Regions from separate parts of the Homo sapiens genome. Here region 2 is linked to region 1. A link means that fine-mapping ties the variant in region 1 to the expression of a gene that starts in the linked region. Tissue or cell type: esophagus muscle. Region 1 holds a variant in brackets; the other region holds the start of a gene. All regions are shown on one strand. Distances are between the middles of the regions.

Region 1 (8,182 bases):
AGTCTTTTGAGTATAAACAAAACAAAAATCAAACATTTGAAAAAATTAAAAGCAAAGAGATTTTCAGCTTAAAAGCCACTTTAAGACAGGTGTTAAATAGCTAATCCCTTTAGTGGTTAATAATCAGCTTTTGGATCTGCTTATCATTTCCAGATCCCAAGGTATCCAAGAACAAGCCTACAGATAAAAACTCCTATGTTGAATCAGCCAGCAACATCTGTTTCTGGCAATTAAGGCCATTTCACAATTAAGAGAAGGAAACTTTGACAGTGGGTCTGAATCTTGGCTGCATATTAGAATCACCTGGGAGGCTGGGCGTGGTGGCTCACGCCTGTAATCCCAGCACTTTGGGAGGCCAAGGCGGGCAGATTACCTGAGGTCAGGAGTTCGAGACCAGCCTGGCCAACATGGTGAAACCCTGTCTCCACTAAAAATACAAAAATTAGCAGGGCATGGTGGCAGGTGCCTGCAGTCCCAGCTACTCGGGAGGCTGAGATAGGAGAATCACTTGAACCCAGGAGGCGGAGGTTGCAGTGAACCGAGATCGCACCATTGTCCTCCAGTCTGGGCAACAAGAGGGAAACGCCATGTCAAAAAAAAAAAAAAGAAAGAAAGAAAAAAAAAATTCAATCACCTAGGAGCTTAAATCTGAATCTCTGGAGACCCAGACATCAGTGCTTCTCATGCTGGACTTTCTGCGTCAGTGGGTTGGCATCATTGCTGAATCCACCACTCCCTTCTCACTCCTTGTCCTATTTCACATACATGTGCATTTGACAACCGTGCACCCCTTCCTCCTTGGACTACTTTTATCATCTGATTTGCAGGACACCACACTCGCCCGATTTTCTCCTACTTTAGTCCATCTCTCTGATCTTTTCACATTGGAGTGTCCCTTGGCAGTACCCTTGGACATTTCATCTTTCTTGGTAACTACCCTAGATCCCTTGATCATCCATTGCCATGACTTTTCAAACCATCCATATTTTGATGACTTCCAAATTTCTATCTCCAGCCTAGGCCTCTCCCCTAAAATCCAGACTCACATATCCAACTGCCCTCTCAGCAACTCATTTGCATGTTGATACCTCAAACTTAACGTGTCCCAAATCAAACTTTTTTTTGTCCCCCTCAGACAGAGTCTCAACTCTGTCATCCAGGCTGGAATGGTGTGATGCATTCTCAGCTCACTGCAACCTCTAACTCACAGGCTGAAGCGACTCTCATGCCTCAGCCTCCCAAGTAGCTGGGATTACAGGCGTGCACCACCAGGCCCAGCTAATTTTTGCATTTTTAGTAGAAACAGCGTTTAGCCATGATGACCAGGGTGGTCTTGAACTCCTGGCCTCAAGTGATCTGCCCACCTTGGCCTCCTCAAGTGCTGGGATTACAAGTGTGCACCACCATGGCTGGCCCCAAATCAAACTCTTGATTGTCCCATCAAACCTGTTCTTCTACAGTCTTCCTCTTCTTGTTAAATGGCCAATCCATTCTTCCTCTTACTCAGGCCAAAAACTTTGCAGTCATGTTTGGTTCCTCTAACACCATTTATTGGACCAGGAGATTCCACTGGCTTTTATTTCAAACTACATCTGAAATTGACCCACTCCTCATAAAGCCCACCCTTACCACTCTGGTCCAAGCCATGTCATTTCCTGCTTCCACACTTACCTCTCTACTATCTAGTCTCAACACAGAAGTCATAGTGATCCTCTGCGCTGTAAGGCAGGTCATGTCATCCTTCGACTCAAAACTCACCAGTGGCTCCCATCTTAGAGCAAACACCAATTTTCTTCCAATGGCCTGTAAGGATCTACAAGATGTGGTCCTAGTTATTTCTCCAACCTCATCTCTTACCACTCCTGTGCCCCGATCACCTACTATGCTCCAGCTACACAAGCTTCCTTGCTGTTCCACATGCTGATCCCTCTACCTGAAATGATCTTCCCCCACATACCACATGGTATGTTCCCTTGCCTCTTTCTGATCTTTGCTCCATGTCACTTTCTAATAGGTGTGGTCTTCTCTGAGCACTCAACTTAAAATTACAATCTTCCCATCCTACTTACTGGCTACCCTATCACCCTAAACTGTTTTAATACATTTAGGTTTTTTTTATTCTATCTCCCCATTTTAGAATGCAAGCTCCGAGAGGGTGGAGACTTTTTGGGTCTGATTTGTTAACTACTGTACTTAGAACTGGATCTGGCACAAAGTAGGTGATCAATAAGTGTCTGTTAAATGAATGACTAACTGAGCAGTTATTGTAGTGACATGGAGAGATCTCTAAGCATCGATTACTATGTGAAAAAAACAACAGTATACCTCCTGTGTGGTCCTATAGTTTAAAAACTCTGCAGTATGACATATTTTCACAGTATGTAAAGTACATAGAAAATTGTCTCCAAGGATATTACACCAAACTGACAAGACAGGTTACTTCCGGAATATGGACGGGACAAGAGATTAGAGTTTAGAGGGATAACTGCTTTAAATGGATTGTTTTTCAGTTTTTCACAGTAATATACAAACATATTCATCTATTATCACTTTTGTTTTTTTGAGGCAGGGTCTTGCTCTGTTGCCCAAGTGGAATGCACTGAGTGGTGTGATCACGGCTCACTGTAGGCTCAAGCTCCTGGGCTCAAGTGAAACTCCTGCCTCAGAGTGCTGGGAATACAGGCACGCATGACCACACCTAGCTTTTATTTTTATTTATTTATTTGGTAGAGATGGGGTCTCACTATGTGGCCCAGGCTGATCTCAAACTCCTAGGCTCAAGTGATCCTCTCGCCTTGGCCTCCCAAAGTGCTGAGACTGCAGGCATGAGCCAACACATCTATTACTTATGTAAAAAATGCACAGAATAAAAACACAACACTGGATTGGGAATCATATAGAGCTAGATCCTGGCTATTTTCACACCATTTATTACCCAATTGAATTTTGAGGAGGGCACTTAGCCCTTCTGTGCCTCAGTCCTTCACCTGAAGTGTCTGACTTTGCTTACCTCAAAGCATTGCCATGAGCTATGGGTGTGCCAGAGCACTGACTTGCCATCAACCATCCTGTCTCCCTGGCCCTCTTTTCTATACTGTGTGTCTGTAAGAGGAAATTCATAGGGCAAGAGACAAATAGAATCCCAATAAATCCTCCTTCTAAGCCAGCCCTGAGCTTTAACACACAAAAGGTCTCATTAGACCAGTGTCCTTTCTAGAATAAACTTTGTGTTGGGTCACCTGTCAAAAACCTTACAAGAGACTTCTGCTTCCAATTAAGATGTAGAAGAATGTGAAAGGTCTTCACTCCTGTAGTGACAATAAAAACCCCAACAAATGTAAAAATCACACTGAGTCCGGGCACAGTGGCTCATGCCTGTAATCCCAGCACTTTGGGAGGCCGAGACGGGCAGATCACTTGAGGTCAGGAGTTTGAGACCAGTCTGGCCAACATGGTGAAACCCTGTCTCTACAAAAATACAAAAATTAGCCAGGTGTGGTGGTAGGTGCCTGTAATCCTAGCCAGTCGGGAGTCTGAGGCAGGAGAATTGCTCAAACCCAGAAGGTGAAGGTTGCAGTGAGTAGAGGTCGTGCCACCGGCCCTCACTCTCCCTCTCACCATATGAGCTGCCTGCTCCGCCTTCACCTTCTGCCATGAATAAAACCTGCCTGAGACCTCCCCAGAAGCTGAGCAGACACCAATGCCATGCTTGTACAGTCTGCAGAACTGTGAGCCAATTAAACCTGTTTTCTTTATAAATCACCCAGTCTCTGGTATTTCTTTATAGCAATATGAGAACGGCCTAACACAGGGATATAATATTCTATATCTTGATTGTGGTGGTAGTTTCATGGGTGTGTTTATTTGGCCAAACTCATCAAATCGTGCACTTAAAATTTTAGTTTATTGTATGGTGGTTTTTTGAGACAGGATCTCACTGTCACCCAGGTTGGAATACTGTGGCATGGTCATAGCTCAACCACAGCCTTCAACTCCCAGCCTCAAGCAATCCTCCCATCTCAGCCTCCTGAGTAGCTGGGACTATAGGCGTACACCACCAAGGCAAGATAATTTTTTCATTTTTATTTTATAGACAGAGTCTCACTGTGTTGTCCAGGCTGGTCTCAAACTCCTGGCCTCAAGTGATCCTCCCACCTCGGCCTGCCAAAGTACTAGGATTACAGGCATGAGTCACAGTGCCCGGCCTATGGTATGTAAGTTACACCTTATTAAAGCTGACTTTAAAAATACTAGAAACTGAGCAGTAATTCTGAATAGTGTCCTACTGGGGCAATCACTGGGGTCTGCCCTCAAATGCATTCTTGGCCTTTCTGCAGCCCTGCTTTGTGTTACAGGGGAGCTGACTCCTCTAGGCTGCTGTGCTCAGCTGACAGCAACCGGTGGGAGGCACTGGGGGCAGAGGGTGAGGCCCTGGAGGATGGGATGGAAGAAGCCAGCGCAGTTTCTTCTCCCACTTTTTCTTGGTGTGCATGGCCACTCCAGCAATAGCCACATCTCTTTGTTAGACCCAGCTCCCACCAGGCTGGCTCACGATTGTTCCAGGTGATCCTGGCACCTGGGCTCTGGTAACATCACCTCTTCCCTGGGTCCCTCCAGCCAAGCGGGTGACAGCAGCTTCCTGCTGATGCTAACTTCAGGGCTGCCTCATCATTTCCGATTGGTTTGTCAGCTCTTCTATCACCTGTGTAACCAATTTCCTACATTAAGTTTCTTCTATTTTAAATACTTAGAGTGGTCTTTGTTTCCCGATTGGACCCTGACAAATACACA[C/G]CTACCACAAGAAAGCAGGTGCCCTGCTCTGGCCAGATGCCTCGTATTTACATACATGGAAGGGAACAACTAGAAGCGACCTGTGTCTTAGTGTGAACAATGTTCAGAGTCAAATAAACGTACAGATCCGAATAGTTGTTTTTCTACTCTACAAATAGGACCCAGTTATGTATCAGGCACAATCACCATGAAATCATCCACCCTAGCTGCCATCATCCCAACCTTTCCCAGTCTCCTGGGATGGCAAAGCACCACCTGTGAAGGCCAGGGTCTACAGTGGGCTGATAGGCCCTCTGATGGGGCTGGGCATTTCCCAGGCTGGCTTTCCCATTCACACAAAGGCAGCAGGAGCTGAAGAGTGGCCTTGCCTGAACTCTCTGTCCTGCTCTGTGACATGTCACCAGGAATCTCCACGCTGATAGATCCAGTTAAACTCTACTCCTTATTTGCAAGTTGTAGCAGCATCACCAAGCCCCATTTCTTTTTTTCCTGGGCACTCAGCCAGACCACATTTCCCAAGTTCCCTTGAAGTGAGATTAGGACACGAGACTGACTTGTGGCCGATGAAACATGGAAAGAAGTAATGAACATCACTTCCTGAGCAGGCTCCTACAACCCTCTCTAGTACAGTCAAAAGTGCAAACAACTCAAATGCCCATCAACTGATGAATTAATAAAGTGTGGCCTATCTGTACAATGGAATATTAAGCCAAAAAAAGGAATGAAGTCCTGACACATGATACCACATGGATGAACCTTGAAGACAGTATGCTAAGGAAGCCAGACACACACAAAACACATATTGTATGATTCCATTTATATGAAATGGCCAGAACAGGCAAAGCCATAGAGACAGAAAAGAGACTAGTGTTTTCCTCAGGCTAGAGAGTGAGGCGGAAGAAGAGGGGGTACCCATTAACAGGTTGCCAAAATGGATCAGTGATTGCTTAGGAATAGGGGGGGAAGAATTGAGGGAAGCTGGGAAGTGGGGTTAAGTGGTAATGGGTATGGGCTTTTGGTGGCGGGGGGAGGATGATGAAAACATTCTAAAACTGATCGTAGTGATGGTTGTACAACTCCGAATATGCTAAAAAAACCCACCGACTTGTACACTTTAAATGGGTTGTTTTTTGGGTCTTTGAGACAGGGTTTGGGTCCGTCGTCCAGGCTGGAGTGCAGTGGCACGATCTCACTGCATCCTCCGACTCCAGGGCTCAAGCCATCCCGAGTAGCTGGGAATATAGGCATGCACCATAATGCCTGGTTAATTTTTTTGTATTTTTTTGTAAAGACAGGGTTTTGCCATGTTGCCCAAGCTAGTCTCGAACTCCTGAACTCAAGCCATCCGCCTGCCTTGGCCCCGCAAAGTGCTGGGATTACAGGTGTGAGCCAATGCATCCAGCCAAAATGGGTTAATTGTATGGTATGAGAATTACATCTCAGCAAAGCTGTTCCAAACACAGATACAAAACCTCTCTAACAAGTCACCATGCTCTTTTCCTATCATCTGGCTGAAAGGAGATCTGAGGATCCAGGAGAGGGCAGAGCCTCAAGATGTAAGGAGACTGAGTTCACCAAGAAATCACCTGAAGAAGAGACTGCCCAGCCAGGATACATCCACATTGGAATAGTGCATGAGTGAAAAGAAACTTCCATCATGTGAAGTCACTGAAATTGTGGGGCTGTCTGTTACAACAGTTACACTAGCCTAATACACAAGTCAACACCACCGAGGCGGCAGGGGTTCCCTCGGTCAGGAAGATCTGTTCCCCTCTGAGTTTTTATCAAATCCCTTTTTTAGCAGACACCAGGGATTCTCACGCTAGGAAGACTTCCATCACCACTGACCCTGACCTAGCCCATGTGGACTCCTCTACTTTTCTGCATTCCCTGCTTTGGGCCACACCCTACTTCAATGGTTATCTTTGGGTAGTGGTATCAACGGTAATTATGTTTTTATATTTTTCTGTATACAATGAGTATGTCTGACTTGGATGTTTTTGTTTTTAAGCACAGACTCACATATAAATAAAGAAAATACAATACGTTTACTTTCTACTACCAAACTTTAAATTAACTGTAGCACCCAGACACTCATTATGTGGCTCTCTTCTAATACTATACCACAGTTGATCATTAGTCACTTCTTCATTCACTTACCCATTCAACAATTTTTTTTTTTTTTTTTGAGGCAGAGTCTCACTCTGTCGCCCAGATTGGAGTACAGTGGTGCGATCTCGACTCACTGCAACCTCTGCCTCCTGGGTTCAAGTGATTCTCCTGCCTCAGCCTCCCAAGTAGCTGGGACTACAGGCATGTATTACCATGCCTGGCTTTTATTTTATTATTATTATTATTATTATCATTATTATTATTATTATTATTTTGAGATGGACTCTGACTCTGTTGCCCAGGCTGGAGTGCAGTGACACAATCTCGGCTCACTGCAATCTCCACTTCCCGGGTTCAGTTGATTCTCCTGCCTCAGCCTCCCGAGTACCTGGGATTACAGGTGCGCACCACCACACCTGGGTAATTTTTTATATTTTTAGTAGAGACGGGGTTTCACCATGTTGGCCAGGCTGGTCTCAAACTCCTGACCTCAAGTGATCCACCTGCCTCGACCTCCCAAAGTGCTGGGATGACAGGCATGAGCCACCATGCCCGGCTTTTTTTTTTTTTTTTTTTTTTTTTTTTGAGATGGAGTCTCGCTCTGTCGCCCAGACTGGACTGCAGTGGCACAATCTCAGCTCACTGCAACTTCCGCCTCCCGGGTTCAAGTGATTCTCATGCCTCAGCCTTCTGAGTAGCTGGGATTACAGGTATGTGCCACCATGCCTGGCTCATTTTTGTATTTTTAGTAGAAACGGGGTTTTACCATGTAGACCAGGCTGGTCTCAAACTCCTGACCTCAAGTGATCTGCCTGCCTCGACCTCCCAAAGTGCTGGGATGACAGGCATGAGCCACTGCGCCCAACCCCATTCAACAAATCTTTACTGAGTGCCTACTCTGTGGGTGGCACAATGTTACTAGGCACTGGCTATATCACGGCCTAGTATACACCATGGCCCCTGCCCCCTCAGGCTTATAGTACAGCAGGAGGGATGATAGGTATTAAGCAAGTAAACACAGAAATGGAGTGCTATAAAGGGAAATAGCAAGCGCTATGAGAATGAGTAACAATAGGAACATCCTTTCCAGACTTGGTATTCTTTGCAACATCAGCTTTTCTCAGAAAGAGACACTGAAACTAGACCCTGAAGGATCATCAGCTTCAGTCAGGTAAGCAATGAGGGAACGAGTATTCTGGGCGGGGGCACAGCATATGCTAACATCCACAGCTGAGAACAGCCTGCTGCCCTAAGACTGAAGGCGGATGAGGGCAGCTAG
Region 2 (8,182 bases), 95 kb before region 1:
GGCCTCAAACTCCTGGCCTCAAGTGATCCTCCTGCCTTGGTCTCCCAAAGTGCTGGGATTACAATTTCCCCCAAGATTAACGAGCCCTCCTTTCTTAAGACTTTCTCTTCCCGCCTTTTGCAAATCTTTCTTTCTCTCCGGCCTCCTCTCCTGATACAAGAGTCTTTTGTGAATGTTCTAGCGCGTTACTATAGCCTATAGTTATTATAGCCTATAGTTAATGACTATAACATTACTATAACGTTACTATAGCCTATAGTTAATGACTATTAACCACAATCATCACCTGTCACCACTTGACACAGCATCTCACAGTGTCCCTCACCTTCAAAGTTGCTTCCAACTCTGCTTTCAAATATCTGAAAACAGCTGGGCGCGGTGGCTCACACCTGTAATCCCAGCACTTTGGGAGGCCAAGGTGGGCAGATCACCTGAGGTCAGGAGTTTGAGACCAGCCTGGCCAACATGGTGAAACCCCGTCTCTACTAAAAAAATACAAAATTAGTCGGGCATGGTGGTGCTCGCCCGTTTTCCCAGCTACTCGGGAGGCTGAATGAGGAGTATCACTTGAACCTGGGAGTCAGATGTTGCAGTGAGCCAAGATGTCACCACTGTACTCCATCCTGGGCAACAGAGTGAGAATCTGTCTCAAAAAAAAAAAAAAAAAAAAGAGGCCGGGCGCAGTGTCTCATGCCTATAATCCCAGCACTTTGGGAGGCTGAGACGGGCGGATCACGAGGTCAGGAGATCAAGACCATACTGTCTAACATGGTGAAACCCTGTCTCTACGAAAAATACAAAAAAAATTAACCGGGCGTGGTGGCGGGCACCTGTAGTCCCAGCTACTCGGGAGGCTGAGGCAGGAGAATGGCGTGAACCTGGGAGGCGGAGCTTGCAGTGAGTTGAAATTGCACCACTACACTCCAGCCTGGGCGACAGAGCGAGACTCTGTCTCAAAAAAATAAATAAATAAAATATATATATATACACGTATGTGTGTATATATATGTATATATATGAAGAACAAGAAGTGCAGAGAAAATATCCTAGTCATTGAAAAATTGGTTACTTTGTTTCTGCACTGCAAAGTTACTTTAAACTTTGTAATGAATCTAGTGGAGAGATCATTTGAGATGAGGCAAATGTCCTGTTTCTCATCATACATTTACCCACTAATTTTAGCCTGTATTGATGATAATTCTCACCTGCAACAGTTACTGTGGTCTTTGCCAAATGGTGATTTTCTTTTTCTATTTTCATCATTCCTTCTATATTAATTAATTGGAATTCTACTGTAAGGAAAAGTTGTTCCTTCTAACCCATTGATTTGTTCAATCATGTATTTAAGTAGGACCTATATTTTACTTGTTCCTTGCTATATCTTCAGTGTGTAGTACAGTGTCTGACACAAAATCGGTGCTCAATAATAGGTGTTGGATGAATGAGCAAATGAATGAATGAATTCATATTCATATGGCCTACAGAGTTCCCGTACATGCACAACCAATATCACCACCCCGTGGAGATGACTCCCAAATTAATATTTTTAGCAAATGTTCCAGACTTACAACTCCAACTTCCCGGGGGACATCTTCAGATAGCTGTGCCACTGCCACCACCAGGTCAACATGTCCCAAACCATTCAGACCAGCTTTTTCTCCTGAGCTGGACATCTGGCCTCCAACCTTTTCATTCTCTTTTACCTTTCATATTCTATCAGCAGCAGCAGCTGCTGAAATCATACCATGCAAGTTTCTCACGTCCATCTCTGCCTTTTAATGGCGCCCTCTCACTCCTTTAAGAAGTTTTCTTCCACTGCAACACGATCTCTCAGTCCAGAGTCTGGCCCAGTGCCCAAATTATTTCTCTAGCTATGCTGAGAGCTGGTCATGCTTTGAACTTCTGCTTTGAATACTTTCAGTGACACTGGGAGAGAATTATCTCATTGGACCATTGTCATTGTTAGAAAATTCATTGTTATGCTGAAATGAAATGATTTTATTCACACACACACACACACACACACAAAATAGCTCTTCCTCCTGGAACATGACTGGCCTGAAAATGTGTGAAGACATATCCAATCCTCTCTGGTTTTACTGTTCATCCAATTTTCTGTTCTCCTCCTGGCAGGAGGATTATATTTCACCTTGTGGAACTCAGACATGGTCGGGTAACTAGCTCTGGTCCGTGAAAATTGAGAGGAAGTGACATGTGTCACTTCTGGGCAGAAGCTTTGAGAGCCGGTTTAAATGATCCCTTTTCTCTTCATCCATGAGACAAGCTAAGTTCCAGAGAGAGGGTGCCACGCTGTGAGGGACCTGTGTTACGAGTACGATGGCTCGCGTCACTTCAAATTCTTGAAATCACTGAAATTTGGAGGTCAGTTGTTACATCATAACCCAGCCAATTCTAGTTAGCCTGTTTTCTTCCTAACTTCTTTAATCGTTCTTCATAAGTCACAATCGCAGCCCCTCACCGTTCTGACCACTGTCCCCTGGATTCCACTCAGTTTACTCATTATCCCCCTTAAAATGTGGAGCCCAAATCTGAACCCGGAACCCCAGGTGCAATCCCACTAGGACACAACACAATGGGTTCCTGAGCCCTTTGATCCTCTGAATAGAGCCCCTTGTTGCTTTGGTGTTTTGTCTCTGTGTGTGCTTTTATCATCGGCTGAGCCACGCTGTTAACTCGCAGTGAGCCTGTGAACCAATAACTAGAGAAAAAAGATTTTTCCCATTGTCCTCTCGACATATATTGGGAAACAAATTTTTTGATCCGCGTTCAAGTAGACAGGGCAGAACTGTCCAACTGCTACGTGATCTTTTAAAGACAAAGTTAGTGGCAGACCATTTACAGAAACCAGATGTTCTGTCTTTTGGCTCTGAGCATGCTGCTAATCTTCATCATCTAGTGTACTGAACGAGATGTACTGAACGAGGGCTGCAGAGCTGCAGCACCGGCAGGAGTAGGCGCTCGGTAGGACGGGGCCTGCACAACCTCCCCGGTAGTCAGCAGAGCGGAATCTAGGAAGGCTCCTTTCCCGCGGCGCCCTGGAGGCGGGGGCCCCACCTTCCCACGCAGGCGCTATCAAGCCCCGCCTCCTCACCCGCCCGCGGCGTGGCGTCGGAAAGAGCCCTCAGCCCCTCCCTCTCTGGCGCTGATACCCAATGGGCAGCCTCAGGCCTTTAGCGGGGGCGGGGCACCCCCTGGACGCCGTTCTGGTTGGCCCGCGGCCCGGCGCAGCGCATGACGTTATTACGACTCTGTCACGCCGCGGTGCGACTGAGGCGTGGCGTCTGCTGGGGCACCTGAAGGAGACTTGGGGGCACCCGCGTCGTGCCTCCTGGGTTGTGAGGAGTCGCCGCTGCCGCCACTGCCTGTGCTTCATGAGGAAGATGCTCGCCGCCGTCTCCCGCGTGCTGTCTGGCGCTTCTCAGAAGCCGGTGAGACCTCCCGGGCGGGCCGGGATGGGGCGCGAGTGGGGCTGAGGCGGGGCCGGAGGGCAGGGCGGGCCAGGCCGGGCCACCCAGAGCGGGGTGGAAGGCGCCAGGGGAGCCGGGGAGCCTTTACTTCGCCTCCGCGCCCTGCATTCCGTTCCTGGCCTCGGGAGAAGCGGCACGGACCGGGATCACGCCAAGGTCCGTGTGAACTTCCCCCTTCTCGACACCCACCTCCCGCCCCCGGGCCCAGCTGTGCGCCAGGCGAAGTCGGTGTGCTCAAGAGGTGCCTGTTGGGTTACAGGACACGGAAAGGGTGGCCTCGGCCTCCTTCGAGTCTCCAATTGACCCCACTCATTTCGGATCTTCTAACTTAATTTCTCTTGACCGAGAGGCTTTGTAATAGCGTAGAATCTGGAGACAGGGTGGCTTCGTTCAAACAGCACCCTCACCATTGACTAGCCCTGTGACCTTGAGCAAGTTTTTAAACGTCCCGGGGACCCGGTTTCCTAAAATGTTTGCTCGAAGTGGAGTTAATCTCTAAATGGAGATAAGAGTTATCTCTGAAATGTTATCAGTTAACTCTAAAATGGAGATAATAAGAGTCCCCACCTCTTGGGGTTGTCTTGAGGATTCAACGAGTGACACGTGTGGAAACGATTCCAAATAGCACCTGGCACATAATCGATAACATGTGTGTTGAATAGTGTTATTTATTGAGTCTCCAGTTCGGTATACATTTCTTGAACACCTGTGCTCAGTTCTGAGGCGGGTTCACAGAAGGTCAGCCTCTTCAGAAACAAACTTCCTCCTCTTCCCTCTCCCTCAACATCTGAGCTTTTCTTGGCAGTGAGTTCAGGAGCGCCGAAGCAGAACTCAGAGGACGCTGCCCTCCCCTCCCCTTACCTACACATTCTTAGGGTACAAGTAGCTAAAGCAAAGAGCAACGATGCTTGAGGGGTGGGGGGTAGAGTTTAGCACTATTTCATGGCCTCAGCATTTAGAGGTGCCTAACACCTGAGCTAGCATTCTGACCCCCCTAGGCACAGTGAGGTCGTGTTAATTGGTGTAACTGCAGGCCTCGGGATTCTGGTATTTCCCCCAGGACTTGATACCGCTCTACTTAGTACAGGCAGAGATTGTCAAAAGGTAAGAGGTATGCCCCTCTAGGAATCCTGTTGCCTAAAATAATGACAAAACTGCCGGGTGCGGTGGCTCAGGCCTGTAATCCCAGCATTTTGGGAGGCTGAGGCAGGTGGATCACCTGAGGTCAGAAGTTCGAGATCAGCCTGGCCAACATGGTGAAACCCCGTCTCTACTAAAAATACAAAATTAGCCGGTCGTGGTGGCGGGCTCCTGTAATCCCAGCTACTCGGGAGGCTGAGGCGGGAGAATAGCCTGAACCCGGGAGGCGGAGTTTGCAGTGAGCGGAGATCGTGCCATTGCACTACGGCCTGGGCGACAAGAGCAAGACTCCGTATTTTAAAAAAAAAAAAAAAAAAAAAAAAAAAAAAGCGTTCCCTTTAGGGATATCTGTGGGTAGAGGGCTGTACCGGTAGTTACGGGCTCAGAAACATCCTTCCTTTAGGCACCTGATGTAGGTTTTCTTCTTCTTCTGCAAGTCAGGTTCATTGTTTCCTGTATCAGTTTGCAGGGTCCCCCCCCCCCCGCCACCTTACAGTAGGAAGAAAATTGAGTTCCAGATATGAAGTCACCTTTGAAAGTGCCCAGGTATCTTTCCACTTGGTGGTGTAAACTCTTCAGATAATTAGAAGTTTTCTGTGTCACTCAACTTGTCATGGACTAATTAGGAACCATTCCTGAAGCTTTTAAGGATAGAACTAAAAGTTTCACTTTTATTTTTTTAAAGGGTGGAATAATAAACTAACGTGTTGACTCTTTGTATTTTGTAATTCTTCATACTTATGGATGTCTTTTTACTTAACTATAAGTAACAAAATAGATCAACGTTTTAGTTTTTTATATTATACATGTAAAAAGACATTTTGCATATAAGCCTTTCACAAAAATCTTGACAGTAAACAATAAGCAGTGGCTCACCCAAATTAGGCAGACTTACTGCACTAGACTCCTACCATCTGTGTGATACTCCATGAAGGGAGGGAGAAGGGGAGGGAGAAGGGTAGGCAGCTGGTCTGATGGCTGTGACACAAGATAATCCCCTTAACCTCCCAAGACGCTGTGTGTTTTTTCCTTTTTTATTCTCCCTGGTTTACTTTCGTTTTGTTTGAGACAGGGTCTCTGTGTCACCCAGGCTGGAGTGCAGTAGCAGGACAGCTCACTGCAGCCTTAGCCTGCTGGGCTCAAGCGATCCTCCTGCCTTAGCCTCCTGAGTAGCTGGGAACACAGGCATGTGCCACCACCACACCCAGCCAATTAAAAAAATTTTTTTTTTACTAGAGACATGGTCTTGCTACGTTGCCCAGTCTGGTCTCCATCTCCAGGCTCAAGCAGTCCTCCCACCTCGGCCTCCCAAAGTGCTGGGATTACTCTCACTCTCTTAAAACCAGGCAGGTAGGGAGATTTATCTCAGGCTTAAAGATTGCCATTGTCTCATCAAAGAGTGTTTGGTGTGAAACTTTGAAATGAATATCAAGATTGTGTTTTTATTTTTGAATAAGGTTTATAGTTTTCATAGTTCTTATTTCATGGAAGAAGATTGAATGCATTTAAAATGTTATTTTATTGTTTGCATTTCTGTATGGCTCCTTTTGTGAGATCTTTACTAGCAATGTTTTGGCTTTATAAGTGGTAGGTAAGAGTTTTAATTTACACTGTTAGAATCTGGAATTTTTGAAACGTTTTTCCTCTTTCACATGAATGGTTCCTATGTATTTAGGAAGTTAAAGTTTTACTTTTTTTTAATTAATTTTTTTTTTTAGGCTGGAATGCAGTGGCACAGTCATAGCTCACTGTAGCCTCAGGTGTGTGCCACCATACCTGACTAATTTTTTAATATTTATTTTTGTAGAGATGAGAGTCTCATGTTGCCCAGGCTGGCTTTGAACTCCTGGCTTCAAGTGGTCCTCCCACCCTGGCCTCCCAAAGTGCTGGGGATTATAGGTGTGAGCCATCATGCCCGGCCTAGTTTTTATTTTTTAAAATTTGAGTGGGTTGTTCGTGGTCTCTGTCAGAGAGGAATCCCATTTAACAGAGAATCTTTTTATGGCTCTCCAGAGAAAATGAATGGTAAACTTATCTTTTCAACAAGCTCTCACTCAGAAATGATACACACACACTTCTGATAGGACTTTTAGCTTCTTTAACTTTGTTCCTTTCACTCATATCAGTGGTTCTTATTTTTGAGATACACAGTAATGAAGCCATGGGAGAAAGTATCTAAGTAGCTTTCTGGCAGTCCTAATCTTTGCAGGCGCAAGATTACAGGCGCATGCCACAGCACTGGGCCCCTTCTTGCTCTTTATTGTATAGCATTATCCTGCCTCATTGTTTCAACTCTAGGATTGAGAAAGAAGTTACCTTTTCTCTGTTACTGTCGCCTGGCTGGTTTGGACTCCTGCCTTCCAAAAACTGCAGTTTCTGTAGTTGTATTTGGAAATTTATTTCACAATACAATAAATTTCTGGCCCCACAAAATATTTATTAACTGCCAAGAATAACACATCTGTTTGATTGCTAAATATAACCATTGATTTGCTGTTTCACCTTCTCTCAGCTTTACTTCTTCCCAAATTCCTAAATTTCCTTCACTTTTTCTGAGATACATTAGTGGACTGTCTCTGCCTGTAAGTTAACTGAAACACTGATTCCTAGTATTTCAGTTGTTTTCCTCCAGCACTGTCATTGTCTGTGTTTGTTGGCTTTGTCCAATAATGGTCTATTGAGGGGTGAAGATATACGTAATTAGCTTTCTGCCTATTGGCTTGTACACTCCAGGGTATACTTGGCAGATCAGTCTTAACTCTTCTCACCAAGATCAGTCCAGTGCTGGATTAGGTAAGGTATGAACACATCAGATGTGCTTTTTATGGAGAAATCATGTTGGTTTACACGTCAGTGTGTGAGAATGTGGCAGAAGGGAGCTAAAATAGTATGATAATACTACTGGATAAATTTTGTGGTCTAACCTAAACCTTAGCCATTACATAGAATACTTTTGCTGTGAGCAGGTTTGCTCAGTTGTAAAACTGGAAAGGAATCATTTCTCACCCCCCGCCTCCAAGCTTTTTACCTCCAAACAGTGACAGCCACCCAAACATCAAGAGAACAGTGTTTCAGAGAACATTTCTACTGGGGCTTCAGGAGGAGCCTGTCCAAGATTTAGGCTGTTCAAATTATAAATTATAAAACAGCTGGCTCAAGCCCATTGTGTTTAAGTCAGAGAGTGCTAAGTATCTTTTCTTTTGTCTTGTCTCCCTAAAGTATTTATCTCATACTTCAATCAATTTAAAATATTTTTTCTTACAGATCCAATTTGATAGAAGAGTCAAGTTTGCCTAGAGTGGAGATTAAATCATAGTTTTATTTGAAGTATAATTTTGGCTTGCTCAAAATGAACAGTATCTGGTTATGACTAAGAATGGCATGAAAAGGCCAGACGCAGTGGCTCATGCCTGCAATCCCAGTACTTTGGGAGGCCAAGGCAGGTGGATCACCTGAGGTCAGGAGTTGGAGACCAGCCTGGCCAACATGGTGAAACCCCATCTCTACTAAAAATATAAAAATTAGCCGGGCGTGGTGGTGGGCACCTGTAATCC

Evidence for each region. PIP is the estimated chance that this variant, and not a neighbour inherited with it, causes the effect.
Region 2: PDHA1 starts here. The variant in region 1 is fine-mapped to the expression of PDHA1 in esophagus muscle (GTEx, PIP above 0.99).

The regions. Positions count from the first base shown.
Region 1 is chrX:19,435,563-19,443,744 of GRCh38, forward strand. The region is part of intron 6 of MAP3K15 (mitogen-activated protein kinase kinase kinase 15); the gene reads right to left. Among named protein-coding and RNA genes, the nearest start is that of MAP3K15, 76 kb to the right of the region's middle. The variant C/G (reference allele first, on the strand shown) is at 4,792.
Region 2 is chrX:19,340,646-19,348,827 of GRCh38, forward strand. PDHA1 (pyruvate dehydrogenase E1 subunit alpha 1) reads left to right here and starts at 3,282. Exons shown (of 11, transcript NM_000284.4): 1 at 3,282-3,449. The coding sequence starts at 3,393.